Linked DNA regions of Homo sapiens: region 2 is linked to region 1. The links come from fine-mapping of genetic effects on gene expression. A gene starts in region 1. The other region holds a variant in brackets. All regions are shown on one strand. Distances are from middle to middle. Region 1 holds the start of RBM25 (RNA binding motif protein 25). Region 2 overlaps ZFYVE1 (zinc finger FYVE-type containing 1).

The links.
Region 2: its variant is fine-mapped to the expression of RBM25 in whole blood (TOPMed, PIP above 0.99).

Annotation. Positions count from the first base shown.
Region 1 is chr14:73,055,355-73,060,732 of GRCh38, reverse strand. RBM25 (RNA binding motif protein 25) reads right to left here and starts at 2,199. Exons shown (of 19, transcript NM_021239.3): 1 at 2,028-2,199. It overlaps RBM25-AS1 (RBM25 antisense RNA 1), which reads left to right and starts at 1,280. Exons shown (of 2, transcript NR_184256.1): 1 at 1,280-1,457; 2 at 1,976-3,903. RefSeq lists enhancers at 2,095-2,634, 1,687-2,886, 1,958-2,922.
Region 2 is chr14:72,994,349-72,999,726 of GRCh38, reverse strand. ZFYVE1 (zinc finger FYVE-type containing 1) reads left to right here. Exons shown (of 12, transcript NM_021260.4): 3 at 1,412-1,916. Among named protein-coding and RNA genes, the nearest start is that of ZFYVE1, 30 kb to the left of the region's middle. RefSeq lists a silencer at 1,659-1,859. The variant C/T (reference allele first, on the strand shown) is at 2,956.

The DNA.
Region 1 (5,378 bases):
AATAAAAAGTTAAAAGCCAATACCAATAATTCTGGGTAGTGGAATTTTGTTCTTCTAGTTTCAGCAACTTTCAATTTTCAAAAAAAGGTAGAAAAGCTATTTAAGAAGAATCAAAAATCCCCTTTTGTGAATGGCAGTGATAGTGTTTGAAAAGTCAATCAAGAGATCTCTAAAATACAGACTGTTTTAGCAAGATGTTAAGATTGATAAATGATTCCTTTGCTTCCAAAGCTATAAAATAATGTAAATTTTCACTAAATCATGTGTAAATAAGAAAAGTAAACTGCTAATTTGTCTGTGGACAAAAACATAACTTGAAAATTCCAAATTCCTGTTAGGTCTGAAGTAGTTACCCAATGTTAACATGGACTAGTTTTACTTTAAAAATACATTCAGAAGGCCGGGCACGGTGGCTCACGCCTGTAATCCCAGCGCTTTGGGGCCTAGGCGGGCGGATCACGAGGTCAGGAAATCGAGACCATTCTGGCCAACATAGTGAAACCTCGCCTCTATTAAAACTACAAAAATTAGCCGGGCGTGGTGGCGCGCGCCTGTAGTCCCAGCTACTCAGGAGGCTGAGGCAGGCGAATCGCTTGAACCTGGGAGGCGGAGGTTGCAGTGGCCAAGATCGCGCCACCGCACTCCAGCCTGGGCAACACAGCAAGACTCCGTCTTAAAAAAAACAACAACACAAAACAAAAAAAAAAATTACAGAGTCAGGGTTGGACTCTTACATTTCATTGAAAATCCTTAAATAACAAATTATGTCAATATAGATTTAAATGCTTATGTGTGTTACCTGGATACTGCACGAAGGATTTTACATACGTTTTTCTCAATCCCCAACCCCAATAACGTATAGATACTACTATAAATTCATTTTACAGAGGAACAAAAACCAAAGCTTAAAAGAAAAAAGAAAAAGAAAAACCAAGGCTTTAAGTTAAATGAATTAGAATACTATAAGATTCACTTGAATCATGAGTAACTTATGACCAACTTAATCCCTTTCAAGTCCTCTGAATGTTTTTGGAAATAGCCTTTAAAAAAATTAAAAGCTCCAAAGACTATACAAAAATTATTTATACATTACTGCCCACGGCCTAATACACAGAGTACTTCACACTAATACAGCAGTAGGGTGCAACAGAGGTCCAATCTCTTCCCTTCTCTTGGCTCCACTCTGCCCAGTATCAAAATGGCATTTCCATGGCAATACAAATCCATATTACATAACCTCCGAAAAATCTTCATAGTCCTACGTCTATTCCGGAAAACCGTATTTAAAAGCAGGATTGACGACCAAAGAAAAATGAGAAAGTAACATTTTAATGTGGAGCTTAGTAATCGCCTAGAATGAATGGCGATATACAGTTTACTGCACCCTCCAATGCGCAAAAGAGGCAGGATGGCAAAATTCATGACTATCTTAAGCAAGCCAGGAGACTGCTAAAAAGGTAGGTATTAGCTCAATTCCAAGGGGGTGGGGCCCAGTTCACTTGGTGGCGGGCTCTAGATGGCCAAAGAGGAAGGGAAAGATATCCGTTGGTGGCCAGCACCTCGCTAAAAAGGGTGGGTAGAGGCTAACTTCAAGGCAACGGCTGGGGCGAGAGTGTCCCAGGCCCGAAAACCTACTGTGGGGCTCCGGTAAGTAAGGGGGCTCAGGGAAGGGCTCCCCTGGGGCAGATCGATCGTTTTGTATCTAACGTGGAGCCCAGGGGGGGCAGAGACGATTCACTCCGCGGCGGAACGTGGAAGGGAAAGGGAAAGTGGGCGACAATGCAAGACGGAAAGCTCAAGCCGTAGGTCTGGCCTCCACCAGCTACGGCTGGGCCCACAGCTTTTCCAGGCCTTAGAGAAGAGAAGAAACCAAGCCTCGTGCCGACCCCTCCCCCACCCCCGCCTCCGCGCTCCCCCTTACCTCTACCCCACCCTGGCGCTTTCGCAGCCACCCCGGCTTTTCCTCCTCCACCAGCTGAGGCACCCGGTCTCCCGGTTTCCACACGCGTTCAGAGACACAAACTCACCCGCCGCTGAGGAAACGGTACTGCCTTCGCGACCTTCTGGGATCCAGGTTACGAGTGCGCTCCACTGGTTCGAGATTTCTGCCCGTCGCTCGCCAGGGAGACTGAGTGCCCAAGCGCCTACTCGCACAGGCCGCAAATACAGCCGCGCTGCGCGGCGAGCTGATGGAGGTCTTCCTCTTGCCCGGCGTGCACTGCGGCCGGGGGCGGGGAGCGCGGAACCATAGAGAAGAACGTATATAGATCGTCTCCGCTGTTGGCTCTGACTCACCAAGCCGAGACGAATAACCATAGAGAAGCAGCGTCTAGCGGTTACTAGAAAGGCCCGAACTGTAAATTATGACCCACCATGTTTGATTGGAGCCGACTGAATCTTACGACTACGGGACGCCATCTTGAGGTCAAGGTTCCGGCTGGGCACGGCGCGAGGAGTGTTAGAGGCTTTCTCACTTTTCGTAGTTTTTCGGGGGGTGGAACCTTGCTTTGTGATTCCTTGAGGTTCGAGGAACTGATAACTGGGCGCGATCTGCAACCTTAGTGTTAAACCCCAAGTGCTGTTATAACAACTACTCGAGATCAACAAATAATTGGCAAAGGCTGTGGAGGTTTTTTGAAAAGCAAAAGCTTATGCGTAGTTGTAGGGCCAAAGAGGTGGCTAGAAGATGTTTGGAAAAACGTGAAAAGTCCTGTAATACTAGTTAACACAGCTTTCGTTCTGTAATCTAAACGTGCTAAAAGAACTTAGCTTAAGTTAATGGAAATGAATAAAATTAATCATAAATGATTACGTTATTCCAATTGTGGACCTTATAGGCAATATCTAGTTACACGCCTTTCTCAACTGCTTGCCTCTAGGAAGGCATAAAACGGATTCAGTATAAAGTTATTGCCTCCCTGAGTTCCTGGTGCTGTGTTAAGTGCTGGAAGTATGAAGGCAAATGGAAGTGAGATTTGTTCCTGTCCTGCAAGAACTGTGAGCCAGGTGAAATAGATGACAAACCATGACCAGCCTAATATAAAATTGAAACATACTACACACTTCCTGCCTGCCTCCCCTACTTAATTTTACTCTAAAGCACTCATAACCATCTATCATAACATACATTTTTCTTGCTGATTTTATGGTCCGTCACTACCCCCACTAGAATGTGAATGTAAGCAATGCATGGATTGCCTGTTTTGTGCAAGAACAGGTCCTGGTACATAGCAAGCGCTCAATAAATATTTGTTGAGTGACAGAAATGATTACCGGCCGGGCGCGGTGGCTCACGCCTGTAACCCCAGCACTTTGGGAGGCCGAGGCGGGTGGATCACCTGAGGTTAGGAGTTCGAGGCCACCCTGGCCAACATGGCAAAACCCCGTCTCTACTGAAAATACAAAAATAAACTAGGCGTGGTGGCAGGCGCCTGTAATCCCAGCTACTCGGGAGGCTGAGGCAGGAGAATCGCTTGAACCCTGGAGGCGGAGGTTGCAGTGAGCCGAGATGGCACCACTGCACTCCAGCCTGGGCAACAAAGTGAGACATTGTCTCAAAAAAAAAGAAAAGAAAAGAAAAGAAATGATTAACATATGATGAGTACCAATAGAACACAAAATTTAGTGGGAGCACAAATGAGAAAGTAGCACTAATTACTACCATCTGCAAAATTTACATCCTTCTATACTTCTGCTTGCTAGGTTTCCTTACCATTAACTAAAGTTAATAATACCTTTGGCCGTGCGTGATGACGAGTGCTTGTAGTCCCAGTTACTTGGGAGACGAAATTAACTTATGTATGTTTGTACTTTGTTCAGTAAAGTGCTATTCAAATTTATAGTTTTTATAGTGCTACTCTATAATGCTATTTATTGTTTGTAAATAAAATGAGTTTCTTTTTTTGTTTTGTTTTGTTTTTGTTTTTTGAGGAGGTGTCTCTGTTTCCCAGGCTAGAGTGCAGTGACGTGATCTTGGCTCACTGCAATCTCTGCCTCCCAGTTCAAGCGATTCTTGTGCCTCAGCCTCCCCAGTAGCTGGGATTATAGGCGTGGGTCACCATACCTGGCTAACTTTTGTATTTTTAGTAGAGATGGGGTTTCACCATGTTGGCCAGGTTGATCTCCAACTCCTGACCTCAGGTAATCCGCCCACCTGGACCTCCCAAAGTGCTGGGATCAAAGCTGTGAGCCACCATGGCCGCCCAAGAGTTTGTGCCTATTTACAACAAAAGGCATAAACAGAAATCTCAGATTAATCTGTGTCCCTTTTTATTATTAGAAACATTGTACATGAATTTGTGTTTACTGTGTAATAAAGGGAGCCCTCAGGCAACAATTTGCTAACTTTCCTACCTTAGACAATTTGTTGCTGATGTTCATGCAGCATCCATTCCCCTTGCCTTTAGTAATGAACCCTCCACATTTTTTAAAAGAAACCATCTTGGCCGGGTGCGGTGGCTCACGCCTGTAATCCCAGCACTTTGGGAGGCCGAGGCAGGCAGATCACGAGGTCAAGAGATCAAGACCAGCCTGACCAACATGGTGAAACCCCGCCTCTACTAAAAATACAAAAATTAGCTGGGCTTGGTGATGTGTGCCTGTAGTCCCAGTTACTTGGGAGGCCAAGGCAGGAGAATCGCTTGAACCTGGGAGGCAGAGGTTGCAGTGAGGCGAGATTGCGCCACTGCACTCCAGCCTGGGCAACAGAGCAAGACTCTGTCTAAAAAAAGCCAGGTGCAGTGGCTCACACCTGTAATCCCAGCACTTCAGGAGGCCGAGGCGGGTGGATCACCTGAGGTCAGGAGTTCGAGACCAGCCTGGCCAACATGGCGAAACCCTGTCTCTACTAAAAATAACAAAAATTAGCTGGGCGTGGTGGCAGGCACCTGTAATCCCAGCAGCTCAGGAGGCTGAGGCAGGAAAATCGCTTGAACCCAGCAGGCAGAGGTTGCAGTGAGCCGAGATCGCGCCATTGCACTCCAGCCTGGACAACAAGAGCAAAACTCGGTCTAAAAAAAAAAAAAAGAAAAGAAACCATCCTTCCACTACTCCAGATCCATGTACTTTGGATAGGAAGTCCCAACTCTAACCAGACCCCCTTAGGACACAGGAGTAAACTTACAACCTAATCAAAACCTGATGATTTAGTCACCCCTCCCTTTTTTTTTTTTTTTTTTTTTTGGTACTAGCCACTGTTTAAAGCATTTTGCAAATATCAACTCCTTTAATCCTCATAACAACCCCCTGAAGTAAGAACTATTGTGATACAAATGAAGAAACCAAGGCTTGCAAAAATTAACCTATCAAAGGCTACAAAAATAGTAAGTGAGCCAGTCTGGTTCCTGAGTTCGTGCTCTGGAACATTATACTGCTTCATC
Region 2 (5,378 bases), 61 kb after region 1:
AACTCCTGGGCTCAAGTGATCCTCTTGCCTCAGCCTTGTTGAGTGTCTGAGATTACAAATGGATGCCACCATGCCTGGCTCCTTATCAGATATTTGATCTACAAATGTTTTCTTCCATTCTGTAAGTTGTCTTTTCATTGTCTTTTTTTTTTTTGAGTCAAGGTCTTACTTTGTCATCCAGTCTGGATCACAGTTCACTGTAACCTCCAACTCCTGGGCTTGAGCCATCTTCCCACCTCAGCCTCTGCAGTAGCTGGGACTACAGGCATGCACTCAGCTATGTATTTATTTATTGATTTGAAATGGAGTTTCGTTCTTGTTGCCCAGGCTGGAGTGCAATGGTGCGATCGCTGCTCACTGCAACCTCTGCTTCCCGGGTTCAAGTGATTCTCCTGCCATAGCCTCCTGAGTAGCTGGGATTACAGGCATGTGCCACCATGCCCAGCTAATTTTGTATTTTTGTAGAGATGGGGTTTGTCCATGTTGGTCAGGCTGGTCTTGAACTCCTGACCTCAGGGGATCTGCCTGCCTTGGCCTCACAAAGTGTTGGGATTACAGGTGTGAGCCACCGCACCCGGCCTCATTTTTTATTTTTTGTAGTGACACAGGGTCTTGTTACGTTGCCAGACTGCACTTGAACTCCTAGGCTCAAGCAGTTCTCCTGCCTTGGTCTCTCAAGGTGTTGGGATTATAGCCACTGCTCCTGGCTAGATCAAGTCTAATTTATCTATTTTTTCTTTTTATTTAGTTATTATTTTAAAATTTTTAATATTTTTAAAATTTTTAGCAGAGACAGGATTTCACCATGTTGCCCAGGCTGGTCTTGGACTCCTGAGTCACCTCACTTGGCCCCACCCCCCTTTCTTTTTTTTTTTTGAGGCAGGGTCTCATTCTGTTGCCCATGCTGGAGTGCAGTAGCACTGTCATAGCTCACTGCAGCCTCAAACTTCTGGGCTCAAGGGATCCTCCCTCCTCAGCCTCCTGAAGTGCCACTGTTACATGCGTGAACCACCACACCTGGCCTTATCTGTTTTTTCTTTTGTTACTTGTGCTTGTGTTGTCCTATCTAAGGAACTATAGACTAATCCAAAGTCACAAAGGTTAATTACTTTGTTTTCCTCTAAGAGTTTTACGGTTTTAGCTCCTTTTTTTTGTTTTTTTCTTTTCTTTTCTTTTCTTTTTCTTTTTATAGTTTTAGCTCTTTTGGCCACTAAGTTATTTCCCTGACTAAAGCTTCAGAGGTTCCTTTGAGCTGTTTGCTAAGGGTGGAGGTGGGGAGCTATTATCCTGTGACTTCCTTTCTTTGACAATTCAATCAAGTTCCTTGTCCTTGGGAAGCACTTCTTCTTGTAGGTGTTTCTAGTGCTTTTACAGTTTCTGTATTTCATGGTCTTTTTTTTTTTTTTTGCAGGTAACAAATGAAGAAGACTTTATTAGAAAATTGGACTGCAAACCTGATCAGCATCTGAAAGTGGTTTCCATTTTTGGAAATACTGGTGATGGAAAGTCTCATACTCTCAACCACACTTTCTTTTATGGTCGTGAAGTCTTTAAAACCTCCCCGACCCAGGAGTCCTGCACTGTGGGAGTGTGGGCAGCCTATGACCCAGTTCACAAAGTAGCAGTGATCGATACGGAAGGGCTCCTGGGGGCCACCGTGAATCTAAGCCAGAGAACACGGCTGCTGCTTAAGGTCCTGGCCATCTCAGACCTCGTCATCTATCGAACTCATGCAGACCGGCTGCATAACGACCTCTTCAAATTCCTTGGGGATGCCTCAGAAGCTTATCTGAAGCACTTCACCAAGGAGCTCAAGGCCACCACTGCTCGCTGTGGCCTGGATGTCCCTTTATCCACACTGGGCCCTGCAGTTATCATCTTCCATGAGACCGTGCACACCCAGCTACTGGGCTCTGGTGAGAGATGGGGTACAGTGTCACAGCTCAACCTTTATGGGTACAAGGAGGCAGCTATTTGGTCTGCAATAGCAACTTGTTGGTAGTGGATTGCCCAGAAAGATTTCTGTCCAAAGAAGACATAGAAAGTGTTTCAAGGAGGATGGAGTGATCAAACATGTCAATCTGCTTATAGGTCAACTAGCATAAGGATTGAGAATTGCCAATTGGCTTTGGCAATATATAAGTCCTTAGTGATCTGGATAAGACCTGTTCCCTGAGATGGTGGGGGGTAAAAGCTTGATCAGAGTGAGATCAAGAGAAAATAGGAGGAAGCCAGGTACAGTGGCAAGTGCCTGTAATTCTAGCTACCTGGGAGGCTCATGTGGGAGAATCCCTTGAGCCCAAGAGTTAGAGATCAGCCTGGGCAACATAGTGAGGCTATGTCTCTAAAAAAAAAATAAGATTAGGAGAAGAATTACTTTATTCAATTCTTTGACAGAGTTCTGTAAAGCAAAGAAGAACAATGAGATTGTAGCTGGAGGCTGATGTGGGATTTCAAGGGATTTTTCTTTTTTAAAATTTAAGATGTGACGTATTGCAGATATTTATGTACTGATGAGAATGATTCATTAGAGAGGGAAGAATGTAGATGTAAGAGAGCAGGAACAGTTGGAGTGATGCATGAGTGGAAGGGTCGGCCTTAGGACCACGGACAGTTCATCCATAACAATGGGAAAGAAAGTAGACAATATGGACACGGTCGCAGATAAGAAGATGGATGTGGACATGGGACGTGTGTGTGTAAGTTCTTATTTGTTTTCTTAGAGAAATAGGAAGCAAGATTGTCACCTGAGTGGTAGGAGGATGGGGGAAAGGTGCAATAACAGATTAGATAGGAGGGGAGCAGTAAATTTGGCTCCTGAAACAATTGCAATCTTCACTTGTTCATTCGGTCATCAAAGTTTATTGAGTGCATATGTCATGTGCTGAGCACTGAGGCACAGAGCAGAAAAAACACTTCCTGTCTTTGAAGAGCTCACAGTCTAGTTGGGGCGAC[C/T]GCACGGTGTTCTGTGCATACCTCCGTACTTACAGGTACGGTGCTGTGGGAGTCCAGAGCAAGGACACTACACCTTATGGAATCTAGGAAAGAAGAGGCGACATTTGAGCTCTGAGAGACTTGGCTAGATGGAGGAGGGGAAGAAGATGCTCTAGGAAGAGCAAACTCCTAGTAGCTTCAAGGAACAAATTGCGTTCAGAGAACTGCAGGTAGGGCTGGGTGTGGTGGCTCACACCTGTAATCTCAGCACTTTGGGAGGCCAAGGCAGGAGGATCCCTTGAGCCTGAGAGGTTGAGGCTGCAGTGAGCTGTGATCGTGTTATTGCACTCCAGCCTGGGCAATAGTGAGACCCTGTCTCAAAAAAAGAAGGAAAGAAAAAAGAGACAAGGGAAGTAGTTCTGCAATAACTTCCAAAATTCCATTCTAACTCCCTTCAATGCATTCTCCATGTAGCATCCAATGTGATCTTTTCAAAAGCTTAATTTACACTTCAGATCATGTATACTTCTGCTTGCAGCCTTGTCAGTGGCTTTTGACTACATCAAAATCCAAACTCCTAAATGTAGTGCCATCACTTTAACTCCTACCTTTGTCTCTGACCTCCTTTAGTTACCCCTTTTCATTCTCCCCCTGCCCACTGAATGCAGCCCCTCCCCTGCCACCCCGACTGCCATGTTTGAAGCATGGCTTGTGTGGGAGGGAATGATGGAGAGACTCAGGGATCAGATCATGGGTGGCCTTGACTCAGTTCTCAAGTATGGCAGGAGTCCATGAAGGATCTTAAGCAGAGAGTTAGATGGCCAGATCTATATTTTCAAAAGATTCCCTGGCAGCCTATTGCAGGATGACTGAGGCAGGGGGACCAGTCAGCAGGATATCAAGTCACTCAAGTGAGAAGTGGTTGGGATTCAGCCAGGGCAGTGGCAGTAGGAGGGAAGTGCACAGAGTAGGCCATAAAGGAGGTTGAATCTGAAGGACCTGGCACCAGTTGATTCTGGTGGTACCAATGACACATGCCCTATAGAAGATAATACATGTAAATGTTCCCCAGTGAAGGAGCAGATTAATTAGCAAGTGCCTCGAAGATAAGGAGAGGAGGTGACAAATGCTGACTTTCAGCTGCCTCCTGTGATCAATACTTTTATGCCACTTTGGATCTTTACAGTTTTAGTGAGGGGAAGGTTTAATTGCCAGTTCAGGATTTTGAAGTAACCAGCCCCTGAAAAGTTATTGTATTTTAGGCTGAGCACGATGACTTCTGCCTATAGTCCAGCACTTTGGGACATTGAGGCGGGAGGATCACTAGAGCCCAGGAGTTTGAGACCAGCCTGGGCAAAATAGCAAGACTCTGACTCTACAAAAACATTAAAAAGTTAGCCAGTTGCAGTGGTACATACCTGTGGTCCCAGCTCTTTGGGAGGCCAAGGTGGGCGGATCACTTGAGGTTTGGGGTTTGAGACCAGCCTGGCCAACATGGTGAAACCCTGTCTCTACTAAAAATACAACAATTAGTCAAGTGTATGGTGGTGGGCACCTGTAATCCCAGCTACTCAGGAGGCTGAGGCAGGAGAATCGCTTGAACCCTGGAGGTGGAGGTTGCAGTGAGCCGAGATTGCACCACTGCACTCCATCCAGACTGGGCAACAGAGTGAGACTTCGTCTCAAAAAGTAAGTAATTAAGTAAGTAAGTAAATAAATAAATAAATAAATAAAAAGGAAATTAAAAAGTCCTTTCAACCTTTATCACCGATACATTTATTGAATCCATCTGTGCTATGGCTGCCCAAGTTTCTGGACAAATGATGAGAGTGTGGGCAAGCAAATACCCTTATACATTGGTAGTTTGCCCAGAGCTTCCTCACAAAAGACCAGAATTTTCAAAGTACAGAGAATTGTAAAAGTTCATCAGGAAGGTGATTAGTTAAGTATATCCACAGGATCGAAGACTGTATTGCTGCTTTTGAGTGTATTGTGACAAGGACAGGTACTTACAGTATGTTATTAAGTGAGAAAAGAGCAAGTTGCATATATATGTTGCTAAGTCTGTAGGAAAAATGTCTGAAAGGGCCAATATTGAGCTGTGGTTACTTTCGGGAAGTAGGTGAGAGCAGAGGACATAATTTCTTTCCTTTTATGCTTTGGCATATCTAGATTTTTCCAATGAATGGGTTTTTGGGAAAAAAGACTCCTCCTTGAAGTGTAATGTGCATACAGAACAGTGCGTATCATATCAAGGTATCATGTGATGAGTTTTCACTGCCTGAATGCCCCTGCGTACTCAATGCTAGACCATAGGACACCAGCCCTCCTCATAGAAGCCCTCCTCATGTCCTTTACCAGGAAAGGGTAACCTGAGTTCTCACAGCATAGATCAGCTCTGCCTGCTTATGTACTTCATGTACATTGAGTCAGAGTATCTTACT